Linked DNA regions of Homo sapiens: all the other regions are reported to be linked to region 1. Evidence: microRNA targets listed by miRTarBase, many of them from high-throughput screens and not tested one by one. Region 1 holds a microRNA gene; each other region holds the end of a gene's coding sequence.

Region 1 (6,072 bases):
TCAGAAGATTGTGATTTCCATCAACCTAAAAGAAAAAAAAAAGTTTTCTTAGTCATTTTCTTCACAATCAACTTCCAAAGAAATCCATATAATTTATTGTTAGAACAACCACAAGCAACGAGAAGGTATAAATGTTACTACTCTTACACAGAAAGACACCAAGAAAATGTTATATTGTTAAAATGGAAGTTTTAAATTCCTGGTTAAATTTAAAGAAGTTATGTTGCCTGTATTGGAAAATAACCAACTAAAAAAAATTCAGGATGATGGCTATTAAAACACTTTGAACAACACCTTATTGAAGAAAGATATTTATTTTGTTAAGTTGAAATAGGAAAATTTTAAGCAGTATTAATCTCCTATTTTTGGATACCTAGGGTTTCTCTTATGGTTTTCTGTTTCACCTAAAAATACTGATTAATAATTGAGTATCTGTGAAGTCGAAACTGTAAATAAAATACATATTTTTTTGAGAAGCAAAGTGAACAAATCAACCAAAGACACACTCACCCATGCCAAGACAGAATATTCTTCCCACTGCTTCAAAATCTGCTCTAAATAATGTAAGAAGCTTTGATTCAAGGAAAAAATTTTTTTCTCATAATTTCAATTAGTAATTTAGGCTAATCTATGTCGTTTGACATTTTACTAGAAAAATCTCTTCTCAGGAATTTAAACTAAAATTTTGTCTGCATATTTTTATCTAACTTTTAAGTTCAGGGGTACAAATGCAGGTTTGTTACACAGGTCAGCTTGTGTCATGGGGGTTTGTTGTACAGATTATTTCATCAATCAAGTATTAAGCCTAGTACCTGTTAGTTATTTTTTCTGATCCTCTCCCTCTTCCCACTCTCCACCCTCTGAAAGGCCCCACTGTGTGTTGTTCTTCTCCATGTGTCCACGTGTTCTCATCATTTAGCTCCTACTTTTTAAGTGAGAAAATGCAGTATTTTTTTTTGCAAAATTAAAATCCAGATCATATTTGGAAGATAGACAGGGAATGCTTCCTAAAACTGCCTTGAAAGTAAAAGAAAAAAGACTTGTCACCATCTTTGGACTGCTCCTTTAAAAAAAATTTCATTAATTAAAAAAATATTGAGTGCTTACTATGTGCTAGGCATTGAGCTAGGAGAAGGCTATGTGGCTACTAACAGGATACACATGATCCATATTCTGATGGTATAAAAAGTAAAACAGGAAAAAGAAACAGACTGAAAAATATCCCAAAAAACTTGACGTACAATTCTAATTAAAATAAATTCAATTTTTGTAATGTAAGTTTCAATAATTTACCTTATCCTTACATCAAGGAACATATATGTAAGTATAACTTTGCTCCTTCTCTCATTCTATTACCATGTCTTCAAATGTCTATAGATTTGCATGAATAAACTAAAATAAGAATTTTAATTACCAATTTTTCACCATAAAATACTAAAAGAATAGCTTGCAAAACTGTATTATAGTATCTGCATGAAAATGATGTTTTACGAACTAAGTAGATGGGAATTTAAAAATCAAGCCCTGACATGAGTGCCCTCAACTGGTGAAATCATTCCAAAGCATTCTTTTAACGCATCTAGCAAAACTCAGAAGGACGGCTGGACACCTGGCCCTGAAGCTCCCTAATGGTGTGTTCCTGGTCTGCACACTTCCCCTTGCAGCACTGCAGACTCTCCTGACACTCGTGAAGCCTCCGTTCCGCCGCCGTCAAGGAATCGCAGACACGCTCTAACTCCTTCAGATGAGACTCCATCTGGCCTCTCATCTGAGTTGTGGCAGTAGGGAAATAAGTGCAAGATCACACATTCAGCATTAATATTTTTATTATCTTAAATACTAGATATGCTTATAACGTAAGTATTTTAGGTATAATGGCTTTAAATAAGAACACAACTGAATAAATATTAAACTCTGTTAAATAAGAATGTATAACTAAAAAGTGGGGTAGACTTTAGTTTTCAAAAAGTTTGTTGAGCACATAAATAGGGTAAATTAGCTGACAGGGTGGATGTTTAACTAATTTTTAAGAGCAAATTTTTAAAATCCTGACATTATATTCAAGCATAGATTATCACTAATAACCATTACTAATAAAGCCGTAATTGTCTACTGCCCAGCTATAGGTTCTAAAGGAATTGTCACTTTTAGTCATTCAATCTTATAACTCAGATACTTACTTAAATTAGAGCAGCTTGCTTCACTCATCTTAGCCAAAACTGATAGGGTTTACTGTATATTATTTAAAAATTGCTAGTATCATCAGTTCTCACTTGCCTTTAATTTGGCCATTAATGTTACTATCAACAAATCTCTCTAATTTCATCTACATTAATCTGTTTTGGCTACTGCAGTTCCTCGCTGCAGCACTTTCGTGGAGATGTGAAAAGCAGCAACCTTAAGAAATGTTTGCACTGCTAATTACAAAAAATAGCCAGACTCTTTCCCTGAGACAGGAACACCTAATAGTTTCTGTGTAGTATCTGGCATTCTTGATCAGGAAAGATAATGCAGTATTTTTTTTTTTTTGCAAAATTAAAATCCAGATTATATTTGGAAGACAGACAGGGAATGCTTCCTAAAACTGTCTTGAAAGTAAAAGAAAAAAGACTTGTCGCCATCCTTGGACTGCTCCTTTAAAAAAAATTTCATTAATTAAAAAAATATTGAGTGCTTACTACGTGCTAGGCATTGAGCTAGGAGAAGGCTATGTGGCTACTAACAGGATACACATGATCCATATTCTGATGGTATATAAAGTAAAACAGGAAAAAAAAAAAACAGACTGAAAAATGTCTGTTTTAAGGACACTGAGGGATCCAGAACAAAGGATCCCTCAGTGTCCTTAAAACATCTTAGAGGCCATGAGAAAACCAGGAGACTTAAAACAGTGAAGTAAGAAAAAGAAAAATTTCATTAAAAAAATAGTTGTCTTGTTAAATACTAGTTAGAAAACATTGTGACCTCACAGTATCTGAAAAAGACAGGCTCCAACCCTTTCCGTCATTTGAACAGGATTGTAAAATATGCTTTTATTTACAGTGCTGCCTAGCAGAAAAGGAGACATTTGCACTGGTATGTTTCATGAGAAAATGAGACCAAAAGACATGAAATGGTTTATTCGCTGGCCTGCTAAAAATAGGTGAAAAGTAATTCCATGAAAGCAGTAAGTTGTGCATTCAGTGAGCTATCTTTATGTCTGTATAACTGGAGGACGCTTGCTCTGGCTGACCTCTTCTTCACATTATTGCCTTGCTCTGACTTCTCAATCCTAAGATAGGGAGCAACCCAGAGAGAGTAACCTTATTAGATTCAGATGGAAGCGACCACTAACATCGCATGACCTCTGCTGCCAGGAGTCAGCATCCTACAACTTTCACTGCTTCTTTACCAAAACAACACAAAAAACCAAACAGAGATGCGGTTTCATTTAAAAATTTTAAAATATTCACAAAAACATCATAACTCGCCAACACTGGCCTTCCCTTCATTCTGTTGCAATAGAACAAATAAAAGGAAATGATCGTTTTTTAAAAGATATTATTTTTCTTCAAAAATGCATTTAGCAGATATTGGCTTTGCTTTTGTAGACGTAAAACATTTATAACCAGAAAAAAAGGGTGAGATTAAAAATGAGAGATACTTAGGTTTGTATACTTATGATTGATAACCATTTTTTGAGCTATTTAAAGTCTGCTCTTGCATCAGAAAAATTAAACATTTATGCTATTTTCCAAATATTAACAAAAAAGTGAAAAAACATTCACATAAACAAACAACATTTCCAGCCTGGAAGAAACATTATTTCCTTGGAAAACAAACTCTTACAGAGGCTAAGACTAGCCCTTTCCTAAGTATGAACTAGAGAAAATGACCAAAATGAATGAATTTGTGTACTATTCATAAAGTAAAAAATATATAAAATATTATTTATTTGAAATTCCAAACGTACCTTCTCTACATTTTTATTTTTGGTTTTTGTTATTTGGTTATTTTTATGTAGCAAATTTTCACATCTGCTTTTTACTATTTCAGCTGCTTCTTGCAACTTTTGTACCTGAAAATAAAGTATTAGAGAAACATATTATTTTTAGAATCATAACATGAGATAAAAATCTAAAATTTAAAATTTCATTTTAAACAAGTCATTATTTTCCTATCAATATCCTTGACTGGTTCATCTAATGTTATTACTTCTTTAAATATGGAATCACTCAGTGCTCTACTCTAACCCACAATCTTTGTCTGATTTACCTGTCTTCTCTCATCAATACTTCTAAACTCTCCACTTGAGCTTTGAAGACTACAAAGATTTTCATTTGCAGATCAATGTCACTTCAAAGAATCAGTCTCTGGTCCAAACTAGCTTCCATTTAAATTATTTTTCCCACCAAATCAAAATCTGCTAAAAAAAAAAAAAAAAATTCTAGGCCCTGCACCCAGAATATGGTCACTCAACCACAGTATTCCTGCTGAGGGATTAAACCCAAATAACCAGCTGGAAGACCCTGATGAATAACAAGTCCCACAGTCCACCACAACCTCCATTCCTACCTCAGACCTGGATGACTGAAATATTCTAACTGGATGTCTCAACTTAATTTTCCCATCTAATCCATCGAGATGCAGCCCCTTCCTACTTGCCCACACTTTGGCCCCCTTAAGCTTTCATCCTTAGTTCATTCTTTTTTTTTTTTTTTTTTTTTGAGATGGAGTCTTGCTCTGTTGCCCAGGCTGGGAGCACATTGGTGCAGTCTCGGCTCACTGCAACCTCCACCTCCTGGATTCAAGCAATTCTCCTGCCTCAGCCTCCTGAATAGCTGAGACTACAGGTGCATGTCACCACACCTGGCTAATTTTTGTATTTTTAGTAGAGACAGGGTTTCACCATGGTGGCCAGGCTAGTCTCGAACTCCTGACTTCAAATGATCCGCCCACCTCAGCCTCCCAGTGGATTACAGGTGTACGCCACTACACCCAGCCAGTTCATTATTCTTTAATTCAAACTCTCTCTGACCAGTGTGTTAACCATCATGCAAGGACCTGCATAAGTCCCATCTTATGAAGTTTTTTCTTGAATACTACATTTCCAAAAAAATAAAGGTTTTCTATAAATTACCATTGAACACATGGTCTATTTCATATATATTGTCATATGTTCTTTTCTTGGTCTTTCATGTGAATAATCTGAATTATACTTTATTTCTTGAGAAAGGAGGCATAATGAACTTTAATGACCCTAGAAGGGAGTCATTAATCTAAATCAATACCATTAAATACACATGATGACAAACAAATATAACCAAGATTAACAAGAATACATTAAGGGTCACATTATACCGATGTAATTCATTTTAAATCTACTTTTAGGAATATCCAGTATATCCATATGCAGTGTTTGAATCAGGAATCAGCAGAATCATCTATTTATAAAGATGTGTGGGACCTTAAGAAATATTTGAGACACACCATATTATAACCCACAATGATAGCCCCACCTCTCTTCAGTTCTATTTATTTAGATTACAAAGAAATAGTGTTTTAAATTGTCTACCAATTTTAGTAAACACTAAAATAAATGCAGTAGTCACCTGAGTTTTATACATTTCAATAAGGGTTTTCTGTTTTTTTTCTACTTCTTGCAATTCTGAGAGTTCATTTTCAACAGATACAACTTCATCCTTCAAAGCAGCAAGTGTAGTCTAGCAAAAAAGATATAGATTTTATAAGTCATTAGAATACATTTATACTCCAGTGCTACAGAATTATTATAAAAACATAACTCATGTATTAACAAAGTTGATAAAATAATTATTTTTTATTTCATGCAATACCATCTAAAATTTAGGAATTTCACAAAGCTAGTGACTAATAATTATGAACATCCTTATTAAGATTTACACAGGACATATTATTTTTAAAACTTTCTAAATTTACTGACAAAAAAACTTGGAAATGTGCCTAGATATGAAAAATCAATAGAATACAGAGGTTACTGGAAAAGAAAAATACACAAAAATTATACTTAATACATGATAAAGGTTAGATTTTTAAATCAATGGAGGAAACATG
Region 2 (6,072 bases), not on the chromosome of region 1:
GATCACTAGAGCAGATCACCAGAGAATACAAATGTCATTTTTAAAAAATTGTTCTTTTGTCCAAGTGGAATAGAAACTTTTTAAGAGTTTGTTACTATTTGTATTTGAAGTTTATGATTTGATGATAAATAAAATATCTTCTTGACCTTTGGCATTGGGCGTTTATTCTAGAAATAAGAAAATTTGGCAGGAAGTATCTCCTATCTAGTGAAGTCTGTTGTTTTATTCCAACATTTCATTTACTTATGCTTTTATACCTGCTTAATTTCTTCAAGATGATAGCATAGAATTTGGTTGCTTTAAGTACTGCTTTCTTGAATTGTGGAGAGACAAATTAACCTCATCAGTTCTGCATAATTTGATTTCCTCTTTGGGAGGTATTTATAATATGTAACATACATTTCGCTTTTTTTTATTATTGTTTATAAGGACTTTAGTAACATTTATTAGGACTTTCTGTATCATCTGCAGAAAAAACCTGGCTGTTAAATACTGTGGTCTAGGAATTTTAGGGAGTGAGCTGTTTCCTCCCCATAATACAGATTTTTAAGTGCTGATTTTATCTTCTAGGTAGAGCTGAAGTTTCCTGCACCAGGCAAGCCTGGAAATTATCAGTATACTGTGTTTCTGAGATCAGACTCCTATATGGGTTTGGATCAGATTAAACCATTGAAGGTAAGAATAGTGACTCTTCAATAAATAAGAGTTTTCTGTATAAATGTTTAATATACTAGGAAAACATTTCTAGTTTTGAAATGTAGAGTTATGGAAGGAAAAAGAAGTCATCTCATGCTTTATATATGATATACTTGATGGACTACTCTTTCAATAATAAACTTAAGGTTTTAGGTTTTTAAGGAGTGTAACAGTTTAGAACATTGAATATAAATTACTTTAGGGATGCATTTTAATGTGCTGTAACTTTATAAGGCCTCAGCAAATGGGTTCTTTTTTCTTTAGAAAGGCACTTTTTTTTTTTAAACCACAGATTCTATTTGGAGTGTATATTAATTTCTGAAACTAATTTATTTTTGTCATCTTAGAGCATACACTTCTGTAAGTATCATTTGCAGCACACTCTGATCTTTGTTTACCAATTCACTTGAGCTTTTTATAAAAGGTGTCCTATTGTATTAGAGAGATGGTGCTAAAAGTATTATTGCATTATAAAGGGTAAAAGTAGCCAGTAAATGCGAACCTCTTTTTTGTTCCATGAGGGTTCCATATTTCTTTTATTAACTGTAGAATTTTACATCACAAGTCTAGAGACTGCAAAATGTCTCGGGTTTTTCTTCCTTAAAGCAGAAGGCTTCTGTTAAGATATGACTCAGTGTTCTTGCTCAAGAATCACAATTATTTTATGCCATAGAAATACATTCATAAATAGTATAACATACAGAATCAAAATATCAAACTGTATTAGAAATTTAACTACATTTACATATTGTTAAATTTACTTGTTTTATTTCTGGGATGAAGTGTCTGTTCTAAATGAATGAGTTGAATTTAGAATTGTGTCCATAAAAAACTATTTCTTTGTAATTGCTGTGGTCAAAGAAAACCTTTTGTTTACCAAGATTTCTTCCATTATTTCTCCCCAAATTTCTGATGTCTACATTTAATTCTTCTTTCTAGTTGGAAGTTCATGAGGCTAAGCCTGTGCCAGAAAATCACCCACAGTGGGATACAGCAATAGAGGGGGATGAAGACCAGGAGGACAGTGAGGGCTTTGAAGATAGCTTTGAGGAAGAAGAGGAGGAAGAAGAAGATGATGACTAAGCAGTACTCTGAATGGACCACAGTGTTTGCACATATTTGCAATTTTTTGCTGTTTTGGAAGTGTATCATAAACCAGAAACAGTACAGAACTGATGTTGAGGGAGGTGTAGTTTTTTTACTCTTGAAATGGGTGCATAATATAACTAGGCAGTGGCGGTGCCTTGGTACAACCTGAAAAATGTTAAGGCTTATTGAAACCTTTCAAGTAGGGGATGGTACATTTATTTCATCTGCAAATGATAATAAATCCTTTGTTATTATAACTGTCCAGAAGTGTGGGCTATGTATTATCTGATCAGTCTATGGTCCCAGTAAAAGTAAAGATGCAGGAAACACAGTCTGTAAATGAGCGACTTTTCTTTGTTCAGCTTTAGTTTTAGCAAACACCACAAATATGTTTTAAGTAACATCGCTCAAGTTTAAGTAACATCGCTCAAGTTGATAATCTCTTGATAAGCTCTGTTGTTGACATTTTGCAGTGATACAACAGCTCCACTCATAGATTTAAACTTTTATTTTTACTTATCTTGGTCATAAGTTGGCATTCTCTCACATTCCACATGATATAGAGGGCTACGTTTTGGAATTTTCCTTTTCTTAATTGCCCAGAGTTATCAGACAGATTATAAAAATGGCTTTTAATGGCTTAAACCATTTCTAAACCTCTATCTTAGCAGATCAATGCAGGATCTAATTCTTTTGATAAGTTCTAGCTCTAAAAGTGATAGTGGGACTGTATGTTTTCTGATACTGGTGGCTTATGTTATTAAACCTTTTTTAAAAAAGGTTCACTCTAAAAGCTGAACTACATCCTTAGTTTTCAGTCTACTTGACTCTATCAGGAGCTTTTTAAGGAAAGTAAGTATAACATGCAAAGGAAGCTTTTTTTGTATTCATTTTGGACTCCTGTCAATAAAAATAGAAGTTTGTTGACTCGTTTTATGTTTCAATGGTGTGTGTCTTTTTACTATCAGGACATAAATAGGGCAATCCACTTCTTTATTTTTCAACTAAAGATTGAATAGTATTGTACATTACTGCTAAAGTGACTGCTATTTCTGTATACTGTAGAAAAACCCAGGAGTGAGAGGGATTTCCCCTCATAGTACAACTGGAAGGATAGTGCTTGTAAAGAGTAGAGATGTGTACATGATGAATCATTGAGGGAGGGTGGATATTTTTATTCCTAGATATGGAGGAAACATAAGTCTGTAGTATTATAAAACTGATTGTAATAATTCTTTCCTATCAAAATCTCCATAGGTCAAAATATTGTTGGAATACTAAAATTTGCAACCTTGTTTACTTTAAAAGGTTGCCACTTTCAGTGCAGAATACTACCGGCATCTTGTTACTGCAATAGTTGGAAATAAAATGTGAAAATTAGCAAAACCATGAATGGTTTTTTTGGTTCTAAATTTAAGATGTAATATTTCCTATAAAAGGGTGAAAGCAGTTTCTTTCTCTATAACCTCAATCACCAGTTTAGTGAGAGCCTTTCTTGGCAGGCAGGAGGCAGTGTCACTGAGGATTTTTTTCATTTACTTCATTGTACAAGTAGGAGGGTGGGTTTAATTTTCAAATCAGGTTCTGCTGTGAAGCACCAGTGTCTTGAGGCAGCTACTGATTACCTAAGTGTGGTGGCAGGGGGTAAGCCAGCTGGTGTCAAGTGAAAGGAGGGATTAGAGAAAACAGGTGTGGCACGAAGGCAAGGAAACTGAGCAGACAAGACAGAACAATGTGTAGAATGCATATTTCCTAGTTTTCTTGAAAGATTTCAAGAAAAGTTGTTTTTTTTTTTCTAGTGGCTACTTTGCCTTAAAGAGGCTTTATAAGTTCATTCACACAGCTGGCTTCTCTGGTTTTAAGATTCTGGAGAGGATGATAACCTAGTAACACCACAGTGCTTAAAAAAAAAAAAAAAAAAAAAACTACCATCACCAGAAAATTCCACCAGTTTGTTTTCCTTTTCTCTTTGTGTGATGTGTATGTACTTCCCAACTAAGTAAAATAAAATTTCCTCTAGTGAGTGCTTTAGGTAACCTCTTTCCATATGGCAGTAGTGAAAGAACTGAGCCTTCAGTTGATAGTTCTTCTCTCTCCAGCAAGTCGCTAAACTCCACATCCCTTCGTTTTTCCTCTGGAATGAGAATAACAAACTATCCTAGTTTGCATTTAATCTAATGGAAACTTGAGCAAAGTTTCAATTTTCTTCCTATAAAGAAACTGACATTTTGTCAACAATTGATGAGCCTATAGATCATACAGTGTATAGGAAGTGAAATTGAAACAGTTAAATTATGTGATATTTTTCTCTAATTGGTAAAGTACCTATTAAAATACAGCTGTTCATGAGGAGACTTACCACAATTCAAAGTGTAGCAGTTGTGTATTTTAGCATTATAATATTTGATTGAGGCCCTGAGGTGTTAATATCTCAATCTCAGAGTTAGATGTTCATGTCCTTTTTGAATTTTTTAAACATTTTTCATAATTTTTTTTTTAAGTTAGGGAGCACATTGAGTGAAGTTCTCTGTGTAGAACAATACCTTCTGCTCTGCTTCTCCCAGCTTTCACTGAGGGCTGGAAAAGGACAGGCCTGTCCAGCTGTACTGTCCCACTGTGTATGGGGAAGCTCAGGCTCTGGTGGAAGCAGGGGGCGTGGATGTCAAACAACTGATGTGGAAACAGGGAGGGAGAGATATAATGAGGCTCTCTAGGCATGTTATTTTTGACCACAAGTTTTGTTCAGTTTGCTTCAGCCAATCCAAACCATATACTAGAGTGTTCTGTAGTCACAATTCTTATTTCAAATGTAATTCAGCACCTTACATAATTTTTGAGAGGTTGTCATTCATCACATATTTACTGAGTTTCTATGTGCCAGGCTCTGTGACTGGATACTGGAGCTATCAAAATGAAAAAAATAGTGTTAAGAACTCACTCGCTGGTGTTAGAGCAGGTAGATGAGTGGCAATCCATTTAAATCCATTTGCCTTGGCTATTATTTGGAATGCCTTTTTTTTTTTTTAGTCTATCTACTGTAGGCAGAAGAATTATTTCTTTAGGGGCTAGCTGTTTATTTTGCTGGCCTTTTTTTCTCTCTTTCTCTTTTTCTTCTTAAGACGGAGTCTCGCTCTGTCCTCCAGGCTGGAGGAGTGCAGTGGCACGATCTCAGCTCACTGCAACCTCCGCCTCCCAGCTTCAAGCGATTCTTCTGCCTCAGCCTCCTGAGTAGCTGGGACTGCAGGTGCATGCCACCACACCCAGCTAATTTTTTAATTTTTAGTAGAGATGGGATTTTGCCACGTTGTCCAGCCTGGTCTCGAACTCCTGGCCTCAAGTGATCAGCCCTCCTCAGCCTCCCAAAGTGCTGGCATTACAGGCATGAGCCACTGCGCCCAGCCTGTTGGGTTTTTTTGGAAAAAAAACAAAAACAACAAATCATCATCCTTTCCTTTAAAATGTTTTTTTTTTTTTAAGAAACAATTTTCCCACAAACGGTCTGATTTAACTCCATGAAATCCTCTATTTAGACTGCCTTAAAGTGAAATAACTGTTGGTGAACCATAACATTTTGCCAGCTGTGTAGTGATTAGTCCAAATATGTCTCAAGAAGTTAGCACCAAGCATTCTCATCCATTTAAACTTGATGCTAGGGCTATTTTGCAAAACTTAAAAAGATGCGATCTTGTACATATTTCTGTAACCTGAGCTGAAAACCCAAATAACAATCATTGACATACTTTAGGGCTATTGTTTCAGGTGGGGGTGTATACATCCCAGGGGCGTGGAGATGATCAATCCATTGAGGAAGTATTAAGATGATTATTTGTATTTAATCTCATCCTTTTAAATTTCTATTTTTGTGTGTTTTATAATGTACATAATATATTGTACAATTGTACACTTCTATTATTTATAAATAAACATTTATTGGTGCATTAATTTTTTTTTTTCTGATTTGGGTCCATGATCAAAACATTTGGGCACCACTGCTTTGTGGTATTGATAGGGTGACATTTGACACTCACCACCTGAGATCACAGAGTGATATACTCTGGAGTTGGTGGGTTGGCATTCACTGTGTGCAGCCCTACTGTAGCTGCCAAGAGCAAAGTGAGACTTTTATGAGATAGAGCTGAGTAGGTCTGGAGGTGGGATTGATAGGCAAGGGGAGGGTTCTGCACAACGGTTGTCTGTGGAGTGCAGGTGGTGCAGGTATGGAGCAGCAGTGCTGGGGACGACTTGCTGGGACTTTGAGCAAATCACAGCCTGTTGCTGGTCCTGGCA
Region 3 (4,105 bases), not on the chromosome of region 1:
AGAAGTGCCGGGAGAGTCCCTTGGAGATAAAAAAACCTCAACAATAAAAAAAAGCAATTTAAAAATCCAACTGCAGCCGGGGGCGGTGGTTCACGCCTATAATTCCAGCACTTTGGGAGGCTGAGGCTCAGGATCACCTGAGGTCAAGAGTTCAAGACCAGCCTGGCCAACATGGTGGAACTCCACCCCTCTAAAAATACAAAAATTAGGCTGGTGTGGTGGCGGGCACCTGTAATCCCAGCTACTGGGGAGAATGAGGCAGGAGAATCGCTTGAACCCAGATGGCGGAGCTTGCAGTGAGCAGAGATCACGCCACTGCACTCCAGCCTGGGCGACAGAGCGAGACTCTGTCTCAAAAAAAAAAAAAAAAAATTCCAACTTCCTCTTTTAGGCGTCTTCTTAAGGAAGGAAGTGTCCGCGTGAACACGAGAGGCCTCAGATCCAGAAGCACAAGCCGTGCATGAAAACACCAAAAGACTCACTGCAGGGAGCAAAGGCAGCCAGGCCCTGCCAAACCAGAGGGGGCCCTGGCACCGGCGACCACAGAGCGCTGGGGGAGGCATCGCACCCAAGGGCACACACGCAGGAAAACCGGGGTGAGAACATAGAGCTACTTTTCCTTCGGTATTTTCAGAATTAGTCTGTCCTAAGAGAAAAAAAAATACATGGTGAACATCACTCACTTGAGGACTTCCCATAAGCAAGGAGAAGTCGCTCCCCACTGAATGTGTGATTTCTCGATTTTAGATTTTTTAAAATCATTTATTTATTTTTGAGACGGAGTCTCGCTCTGTTGCCCAGGCTGGAGGGCAGTGGCGCGATCTCGGCTCACTGCAAGCTCCGCCTCCTGGGTTCAAGTGATTCTCCTGCCTCAGCCTCCCAAGTAGCTGGGATTATAGGTGCGCACTACGACACCCGGCTAATTTTTGTATGTTTAGTAAAGACGGGGTTTTGCCATGTTGGCCAGGATGGTCTGGACCTCTTGACCTCAGGTGATCCACCCGCCTCGGCCTCCCAAAGTGCTGGGATTACAGGCATGAGCCACCGCGCCCGGCCCGATTTCTTGATTTTAAAATTAAAACAAAGGGGTAGTACAGCCAAAATAAATAAGAACGTAAATTGCCGTATTTTTTTTTCTAATGGTACAAGAACAATTTAGTAAATAACATCTTCAACTTAAGATAAAAAGTAGGATATATTTATAATGAAATTTTCAAGTATTATTTCAAAATTAACCCTGTACAAATGATATATTTTGGAAATTCCAATATTTGCTAGAGAATATTTTTTAAATACCAAACATCTTTGTGGTTAATGCTACCTTAACCTTACCAATTAACCTTCTAAAAGTATATTACAACAGAACACAAATAGCTTAAAACACACCATACTGTTTTCTCCACAAAACAGACACCAGACACCGACATGAGCACATCTGGCCTGGCCAGTGACTCAGAACCTCATTTCAGACCAGTACATCTGCAGAGGAGGCCACGCGGACCCATTCTCTCTCTCCTAACTCATATAATAAATATTATTTTAGATTTTCTTAGCAAACTAGGGGACAACTTACAGACCCCACCTCTCCCAGTCAGCCAGTGTCTGCAGGGTTTCAGGATTTGGGGTAGGAAACAGAAGATCTCACACATGTCGTGCTGATTTTAAATAAGGCATCTGTCTCTGAGACACCTGGGAGAGCACAGCCACCTTCCTCACGGTGCCTGCCTGTCTCTTCCGGAAGTCGCCTCTGCTTGCCACATGATGCTGGTGTAACCACAAAAGATCCAGGACTTCTCGATGACTGCAGAAGTACAGGTGCTCCTACACACGAGTACAGGCGCTCCCACAGACAATGGTAAAGATTTTCACTTGGGGAACAGGAGTGTGAGGTTTGTTACCGCCTGCGACCTACACCTGGCTGACTCCAGGGGAAACCGCGGGAGTCGCTGCAGGGAGCCCCTGGTCTGCTCTCCTCCTCCTCCTCCACCGGCCTCTCCCTGTGCCCCCCCAAAGGTCAGATCAGATATGGGGCCTCAGTGTCCTTGTGCCTCCTGATGGCCGTCAGGCCTGACCAAGGGTCCAAGCTGCCCCTTCCCAGTGGCCAGCCACGGTGGAATCACACAGGGCCAGTGGCCTGAGAGGAAGAGACCAGCAGGAAGGAAAGATCCTCAGCAACAAAGTAAAACCAGAACAACAGAGGACCTTTCTGTGTAAGAATATTTGGCTTTAGAAGGTAAATAAAATAATTATATTTCTTAGAATTTTCTGACTATCCCTAAATCCTGCAGGTAAATTATTCCCAACAAATTTTCAAAAGGCAATCAATAATAAGTAGGTTCTTCTTCAATAACATGAGCATATGCTTCTTAAAGACTGGGTGACAGGCCGGGCGCAGGGGCTCACGCCTGTAATCCCAGCACTTTGGGAGGCTGAGATGGGCAGATCACTTGAGGTCAGGAGATCGAGACCATCCTGGCCAACATGGTGAAACCCCATTGCTACTAAAAATACAAACATTAGCCTGGCATAGTGGCGCACGCCTGTAATCCCAGCTACTCGAGAGGCTGAGGCAGGAGAATCGCATGAACCTGGGAGGCGGAGCTTGCAGTGAGCGGAGAGTGTGCCACTGCACTCCAGCCTGGGCAACAAAGCGAGACTCTGTCTCAAAAAAAAAAAAAAAAAAAAAACAAAGATTGGATTATGATATTCAGTATCTATGTACACATCCTATGGTGGGATGGCTATCCAAAAAAACAAGTAAAAAGCCAAAGGTACAGATAAAATTTCATTTCTGCGGAAAAGTAAAGCTCTTACTGAATGGAACAGGGAAGTGAGAAACTGCAGCCGGCCTGGCCAGGCGCGGTGCCGCAGACCCTGTCACACAGCTGCTCCCAGTTACGCAGCCTCTCCCTGTCACCCGCAGAGAGCAGCATCGGTGGCCGCTCAGAAGCCACGACCTACAAGTAACCCTTCAGACACGTTCAAAGCTCCTCGCCGAGAGCCTATCAGGCTTTTAAGAGTTGGTCATTCCATGTGAAAAGCTAATTGTGATCTTCGAATGTTTTTCTAGTCCTTGGCTCTCATTCTGCTATATATTTTACTTCTTGTTAAAGGCAAAACAAAACTTAAATTTCATGTCTTAGAAAAACATCGACCACACAATCAAATAAATAACATTGATAAGAGCCTTCTGGGGCAGCGGCGCACGGAGGCGAGTCCACAGCAGTCACTCTCCCGGCCCTTCTTTGGAAGCCCTGCTCTGACTGTGTCTCTGTGGGTCGCCGCGTGGGCCGGCGTGACCCCCCGGGGGCACAGGGCTGGCAGTGGCTGGCTCCAGCGGCGTCCACGAGGACAGAGACTCGTGCACCGTCAGGGCGTGCTCCTCCATCTGGCGCTGCAGGCTGTCCATCTCCTGCCTGGGACAGAAGAAGGAGGAAGAAGGCCCAGATCACACAAGTGCCAGGCAGAACGCGCCACCTGTGGACAGCGTCACTCGCTAGCACCTGAGTGGACCGGGGCGCCTTCGGGGATCCGCAAACCAACTGAGACCACAGAAGCTCAGCTGTTCTCAGCACCGTTCTCTACACTGTGCAGAGGACACAGGCTCAAGGACCAGTCCTGACCAGGCGGCAGGGTGGAAGCTGTCACTGAGGCCTGGCACACACGACTTCCACTCCGTTACCTGCCCTCGGGGCGCCGCCTGGCTCCGCCCTACACACTTCGCTCAGCCTCAGGCTGCCAGGTGCACCATGTGTGGCCTTCCAGCTTCTCAGGGCCTATCAGGGTAGTTTAACTCCAGGCAGTTTCCACCTATGAGTTCACAGGCTGTGTGTGCGAGTTCCCCCACCTTTATATAAACCTCAGAGGCTGTGCGAGTCCCCCTCCCACTTTATATAAACCGCAGAGGCTGTGTGAGTCCCCCTCCCCCTTTATATAAACCTCAGAGGCTGTGCGAGTCCCCCTCCCCCTTTATATAAACCGCAGAGGCTGTGAGTCCCTCCCCCTTTATATAAACCACAGAGGCTGTGCGAGTCCCCCTCCCCCTTTATATAAACCTCAGAGGCTGAGTCCTTCCCCCTTTATATAAACCTCAAAGGCTGTGTGT
Region 4 (6,072 bases), not on the chromosome of region 1:
TAGTCCTTTGGGCAGCACGATGTTGCTCTAGTCCACCAAGGCTTAAAGATTCACAGTGTAGAGGAAAAAAATATGAATTAAAGCATTTCTACTAAAATATATTTTAATAGCTGGTGTTAACAATTTGCATAACAAAAGCCAAATTATATTAGTAACATTGTAACATTCCGTGAAGCCCCTTCATTTGCAAAACATTCAATGTTTTCTTCAAAACTGTTACACTCTCAAAGTTAGTCTCGCAAATTAATCATCAACCACAATTCTACATATTTTGAAGCAAACAGAAGCCAAACTGTACAATGGTTCAATTTTGATCACAGGTCAAACATCAAGTTTCACACCATGCCTGTAATAGACTTGGTGCTGCTTCCTAAATGCTCAGCAATTCATTGCATGGACACTGGAGAATGGGACTGTGATGCAGTTTTCTCTTTTCCTTTAAAGTACATCATTCTTAACAGCAACTGGATTACAAAGAAGTGATACTATGCAAACTGGATACCATGTATCAAGCACAAAAAATCCTATGGCATTCCCAGGAATATACTGAAGTCATACAGACAACTGAGAAAATTTGCTCAAAGATTCTTCCAAGTTTATGGGTTCAAGTAGTCTAAGCATCACAGAATAATAACCACAGAAGCAACATACAATGCCTTGACTTTTTTGATCAACAGTTGACAGTTAGTTGCGAGGAAAGGGTCCAAAAGGCATGGAATACTTCAGAGACTTTTATTTTAGCATCCTTGTCAGTTTACATAGCTTCTTACTTAACTAAAAGCTCTCCCACCTCCATATCACCTTAACCAAAACAACCACAATCTAGCCACTTTTAGATTATCAGAAGCAAATCGCTAAGGTATAATTAATTTATGAAGTGAAGTTCATCTTGTGTAGTGAATCCAGCCTCACAATTATTCTATCTTACAATAGGCATTTTAAATCCCAAATCTAAAGTTAATGTTTATATAGCTCAACTCTATATAAATCCACAAAGAACCTTTCAGAAATAGATGGAAGAAGTCGGCATTTTCTAAAGTTCTAAATCTTTAGAGATAAAATACAATCAGCTAACACCTTTAATATCTGAGGAGCATCCCACTTCCCTACCACAAAAATATCAATCATGTGTAATAAAATATTACTATAGAATAGGCAGCAACTTGCTTGCTTGGTTTTCTTTCCAAGAGCATACTAGACAAACAAGAGTAATCAAAAAGGCACCTATATTTGTATATATCTGTATTACAGTTTTGGTATATCTTTTATCCACTTTCTATAGGGATGTGTTATTAAAGATCACACACATTTTCTTCATCTTTTATTGAAAACATTCCACTGGAGATGGATGAACCTGAAAACGAGGTACATCCCTTGAACTTCCACTATCTTTTTAGAAAAAGTCTTGTTCCTCATTCCCAGAGTGTTGTCAAGCTCAGCATGGAGAGGATAAGGAAAGACTGTGGCACATTGGAAAAACCAGATCTGCATCTTCTTCAAGAAATAAACCCAGTGGACAGAGAGGGGCTGGTCTAATCTTATCCATATTCCTACAAGGTGCTTGTGGAAACTGTGCTTACAAATGCCTGTGTGGTGTATGGAGGTCGAGGAGACCTGGGATCATCAAGAGCCTCCTCCATGGGCAGTTGATAACCAAATAAATATTTCAAACTGGGCTACACTGCAAGTGTGTAAACAATAACAAGAAGACATGAAGGATTCATTTTGCCATAGGTTAGAAATAGAAAGCTTTCTAGAGAACAAGAATTATTAGTAAAAACATGTACTACAAAAGCTTACAACAAAAGCAATATATTCTGTTGCTATACTTTGCTCAAGAGAGAGAGGATCCCTATACAGCTTTGTTTTCAGAACCTTTTAAAAGTGTATCAAACTGTTCCTTGTGCTTCTGTCAGGCTTGAGAACACATCAAACTTTAGAAAGTCAGGTGCATGCTCTCTGTGCTTGGACATTTACACAGTCATCTTTAACTCAATTTTTAAAATCTTCTTTAGCTGTCAGCTTCATGCACGAGATACCTGTTGCCAAACCAAAGGTGGGAGGGAAGCACGTGGAAAGTGGAAAAGTTGTTCAGGCATGTCATTTTTTTTTAAATGATGCTTTTAAAAATAGCACTTTGGTTTTATACATATAATTTTCCAATATTTCTCCTGAGATGCTTAACATCCTGACAAGCTTTATTAACAACTGCCAACACTACCAAATTATGGCCTCAAGAGCATGCAACATCTTGTTCAGTTTTAGTCTTCATTGTAAAACAACTACCCTTTAGTTAAATTCTGATCAGATCTTAATTCCTAAAGGCTTGAAGCAGAAATATTTTGCTATGCAAACATTATTACGTGAAGCTTAAAATTTTAGGAGACTTATTCCTCAAATATGTATTGACTTTTATGCTCAGTGAATCTGGTTTTGAAATCGGTGGATGAAATTACTTTCCTGATTACAAGCATTATTTCAAGTCAGTTTTCATTGCGGTTCTTATAAATGTGCTATTTATCCAAAATTGTACCTGTCCTATATTTAGTCTGAAAATTTAATCAACAACTACTCTTTCTTATAATCACAAAAGAAAATGGCCTGCCTGGGTGAAATGTAAATATATACTTAGTAAAATAAAATTGAGCAGGTATTTTATCCTCAGTTTTAACGACAGATTTTTTTGCAAAAATATTGCAAGTTCAGTTTATTTTTGTAGGTTTGTGTACAATATACCAAAACAGATATGGGGTTTTATCACTTTAATCACGACTGGCCATTTCAGTGAGAGAAAACCAGCCAAACCCCCTTAAAAGAAGTCTCTAGTTATTTGCCTGCATTTATTTTTTCAACTTTATGTCAGTGACATATAGATGCAGCTTCAGTGTAATAAAGCCTATTTACCCTTTTAGCCTAATAAAATGAAATCACAGATTTTCAAAAGCATGTGCTAACTTTTCTAAAGTGGAAATAAATTAGCTTTGGCCTTTGGACTAGTAAACGTTTCCTTAAACGATGTTTTACAGGATGTTTTGTTAATTTCCTTGAATATAACATATAAGGCAGATATCCCCAAGACCCGTACATCTTAGTACTTTTTTGCAGTTTTGCTTTTTCGGTTTTGTCATAGCTGTGAAGTCAGACCCTAAGTGAATGCCACCCCGTTGCAGGTCACAGTAAACGGCACAATCAGAAAAACACAGGGTTGCCGACGGGTGCCGCTGGCTTGGTGACCTGGACTGCAGACTCTGGATGAAATTTCAAGACCCACCAGCAAGGGCTAGCATAAAGCCTGCAAAGTCACTTATTCGAAAATCAAAACATGGCAACAATTTCTTTCTTAGAGAACAGGCTCTTGGGCCTGTACTAAAAAATCTCTGATGACATTCCTGTTTCATTCCCTTAAAAATGATTTAGAAAATAAAAGCAAAAAAAAATGGAAAAGGACGTCTTTTGATTAACCCGTTTTGGTGGCTAGATTTCCATTCCAGAATTTGAATACCATTTTCCAAAAGAAGATACCAGATCATCTCTGTATGGAATTGGTAACTTTGTTTGCTGAGTATTTTTCCAGTCACACTCCAGCTTCCATTGCTTCACTGGCTTCTGTTACATTTTCTTCACTTTGAAATCAATGGTGGCATTAAGTTAATCAAAGCTGTTCAATGGAACACCTAAATCGCTTATTTACTAGAGTATACATGTTATTTCCTAAGATGTAAATCCTTCAAAACTAGAGTGCGATGCAGCAGGAAAATCTCAAGCATCTTTTCAAAGTATGTTTTTCTGATGAGCTGGCGACTAGAGGAAGAAAGGGCTTTTAGGTATCAGTCACCCTTTTTGCTTCAATAATAGGAACGCGCAGTGCAGCTGCCTATGTTACAGAAGCTTGAATCTACATGACATGCAACAGGGTAAATGCTACTAGGGAAATTATATCAATGACATTATAATTTGCCCTTTGCAGAGTAGCTGTGAAGTTATTTGGTCCTGACATTCTGTGGAACTGAGCATAGACTTGGGTCCATAGAATATAAATGGAGAGTAGGAGATGCCTTGGTACAAATGAGAAATAAATAGATACCAGTCAGCCTAGGGAACAAGGAAATTTCTCTGTTTAGTAGAAGTTTCTAGATCCCTAAGGCCACCAGTCAATATAATTTTAACCAGACTGTCCTTCTGCCACTGTTTACACTTATTATATTGGGCAATTTTCACTAATATTGGAAATTGCCTCATGACTCAAAAGCAAAACGGGTTTGAAATTATTGGCTGCATTACAGAGTTAAGAGAATTGGCTTGGGGTGATTCCAAAGTGACAGCTAAGAAGTTTCAAACACACACTACATTTAAGGGACAATCAACTTCTCTATTAAAGTCTACAAAAATACATTTCCCAGAAGGGTTCAATAGCCAATCAAAGGAAACCATGAACACAATTAGCAGCACCAGGTGTCCAGACACAAAGATTTTTGTTTGTAGGAATTACTGAAAATGCTGCTGTTTTCAGCCCAGAGGTCATTCCTTCTTCCTGGTACCTGTGTGTCTAATTGTCAAAGGAAGGATACATCATTGTAAAATAATGGCCAAGTTGTCTTAAAAGTATCTTCTATCTTTTAAAAAGATTAGGTTTGGGATACATTAGAATAAAGCTCAAAGGGCAGGGAGAAATAATTAATTAACAAACTCAATGTAATTCGCTGGGAGCATTCCTGTTCTCCCTGTTCTCTGCACTGTGCCGTACATCCAGCCATCGTCAATAGGCTGCACGTTGACGATGTAGTCGCCGTCTCTAAAGGAGACCTCGTCTTCATCCTGGGCACTGTAATCGTACATGGCTCGGTAGGTCCTCTGAGAAAGGAAGAAGGGATTATACGATGAATGCCGAAATAGCTACAGCCACAAATTCCAATCACAACACACCGACCCACACATAAAGTAACTATTAGGAATGTTTTCAAACACATGTATCTCTGGAAATCTGTAAACCTAGCATCTCATTGTGCTGATCTCAAGTTTACTAGTCTAGCAAATAGCTTAATATTTTTGGAACAGGGATAGAAAAGTCACTAAATACGACAGGTAGCCCATCAAAAAGTAGGCTTTGAAATAATAAAGCCAAGTTCCCCCCAACTTCAGATAACCCCAGAAACCTTAGATAATATGTGATTTCATATTCTTCAGAGAACAAAACTCGTCATATGTCAGAGAAGTTCAAATCTCTCCTGGCAATGTACTTTTCTTAAGTTGATGCTAAAAATGTTCATTTCCTCTTAAAACTATGTAAAACAAATGAAAGAAAAAACTCATAACATACTCACTATATAGGTTTCTGTATCACTATGAGAGAAATTTAGCATATAAGTGTCCTGAATGTTAAGATACATACTCAATTGTACTTATTATATTATGATTATAATGAGTTTTCCTATATTTGTTTTTGTTTAAGGCTAAGCATTTAGCTAACATTAACATCAGACAATCTCAAAATCAAGTACATTCACAGACTGAGGACATGGCTGGGACCCAAAGAATTTTAGAGCAATTCAAGTTACCGGACAGTGTAGAAGAGTTTTCTAGGTGTTGAGGCAAAGACCAAGAGACTATGTTGAGGGCTTGTAGAAGAAATTTCTGCATGAGAAGCCAAGTATAACTAGCAAATGTTGAACACTTCTTCCAAGTTTTACACTGAATATATGAACCAGTTCTTCAAGATTTCCAATGGGGGATTTGAAGATATATTTTGGCCACATAATTTAGGCTTTTGTGTTCATTTTGATTAAGATGAACTTGTAAATACAACCATCAAATATCCATGCTCCTAAGGCATGAGTAAAGAGCATAATCGGCTAGTACCAATCATGAAGTAACAATTAGGATACTGTACTGGTAGATTCTTTGTATGTTTTATTGTTTTATGTAATGCTTATTAATGCCTTCCTTTCTCAACAGTTTACCTCTGTAAGTTTTTTGCTTCCTTCAAAAGAGTTGTATAAATGGCAACACATCATCATTTATCTTTAAATGAAAATACCCAATATTCAATTCAACTCTATTCCACATGTATTTACA

Evidence for each region. Region 1 holds the annotated microRNA hsa-miR-7856-5p (UUUUAAGGACACUGAGGGAUC, at 2,831-2,851, opposite strand). A microRNA usually pairs through its seed, bases 2 to 8, with sites in the 3' UTR of a target mRNA and lowers its output. Matches are read on the target gene's strand: a 7mer-m8 pairs with bases 2 to 8, a 7mer-A1 pairs with bases 2 to 7 and ends in A, and an 8mer does both.
Region 2: the mRNA of SEC63 is a reported target of hsa-miR-7856-5p. Seed matches in the 3' UTR shown: 7mer-m8 at 3,596-3,602, 7mer-A1 at 3,686-3,692, 7mer-m8 at 5,320-5,326 and 7mer-A1 at 5,454-5,460.
Region 3: miRTarBase lists GOLGA3 as a target of hsa-miR-7856-5p. Seed matches in the 3' UTR shown: 7mer-A1 at 3,012-3,018.
Region 4: the mRNA of NEBL is a reported target of hsa-miR-7856-5p. Seed matches in the 3' UTR shown: 7mer-m8 at 4,349-4,355.

The regions. Positions count from the first base shown.
Region 1 is chr1:86,354,835-86,360,906 of GRCh38, forward strand. It overlaps MIR7856 (microRNA 7856), which reads right to left and starts at 2,853; the gene lies at 2,798-2,853. ODF2L (outer dense fiber of sperm tails 2 like) reads right to left here. Exons shown (of 17, transcript NM_001366781.1): 11 at 5,592-5,702; 12 at 3,953-4,057; 13 at 1,610-1,768; 14 at 1-25.
Region 2 is chr6:107,867,411-107,873,482 of GRCh38, reverse strand. SEC63 (SEC63 protein translocation regulator) reads left to right here. Exons shown (of 21, transcript NM_007214.5): 20 at 571-675; 21 at 1,636-5,727. The coding sequence ends at 1,779. Among named protein-coding and RNA genes, the nearest start is that of SCML4, 46 kb to the right of the region's middle.
Region 3 is chr12:132,769,879-132,773,983 of GRCh38, forward strand. It overlaps GOLGA3 (golgin A3), which reads right to left. Exons shown (of 24, transcript NM_001389683.1): 24 at 1-3,416. The coding sequence ends at 3,227. Among named protein-coding and RNA genes, the nearest start is that of ANKLE2, 10 kb to the left of the region's middle. RefSeq lists an enhancer at 1,924-2,123.
Region 4 is chr10:20,781,073-20,787,144 of GRCh38, forward strand. NEBL (nebulette) reads right to left here. Exons shown (of 28, transcript NM_006393.3): 28 at 1-4,851. The coding sequence ends at 4,675. Among named protein-coding and RNA genes, the nearest start is that of NEBL, 110 kb to the right of the region's middle.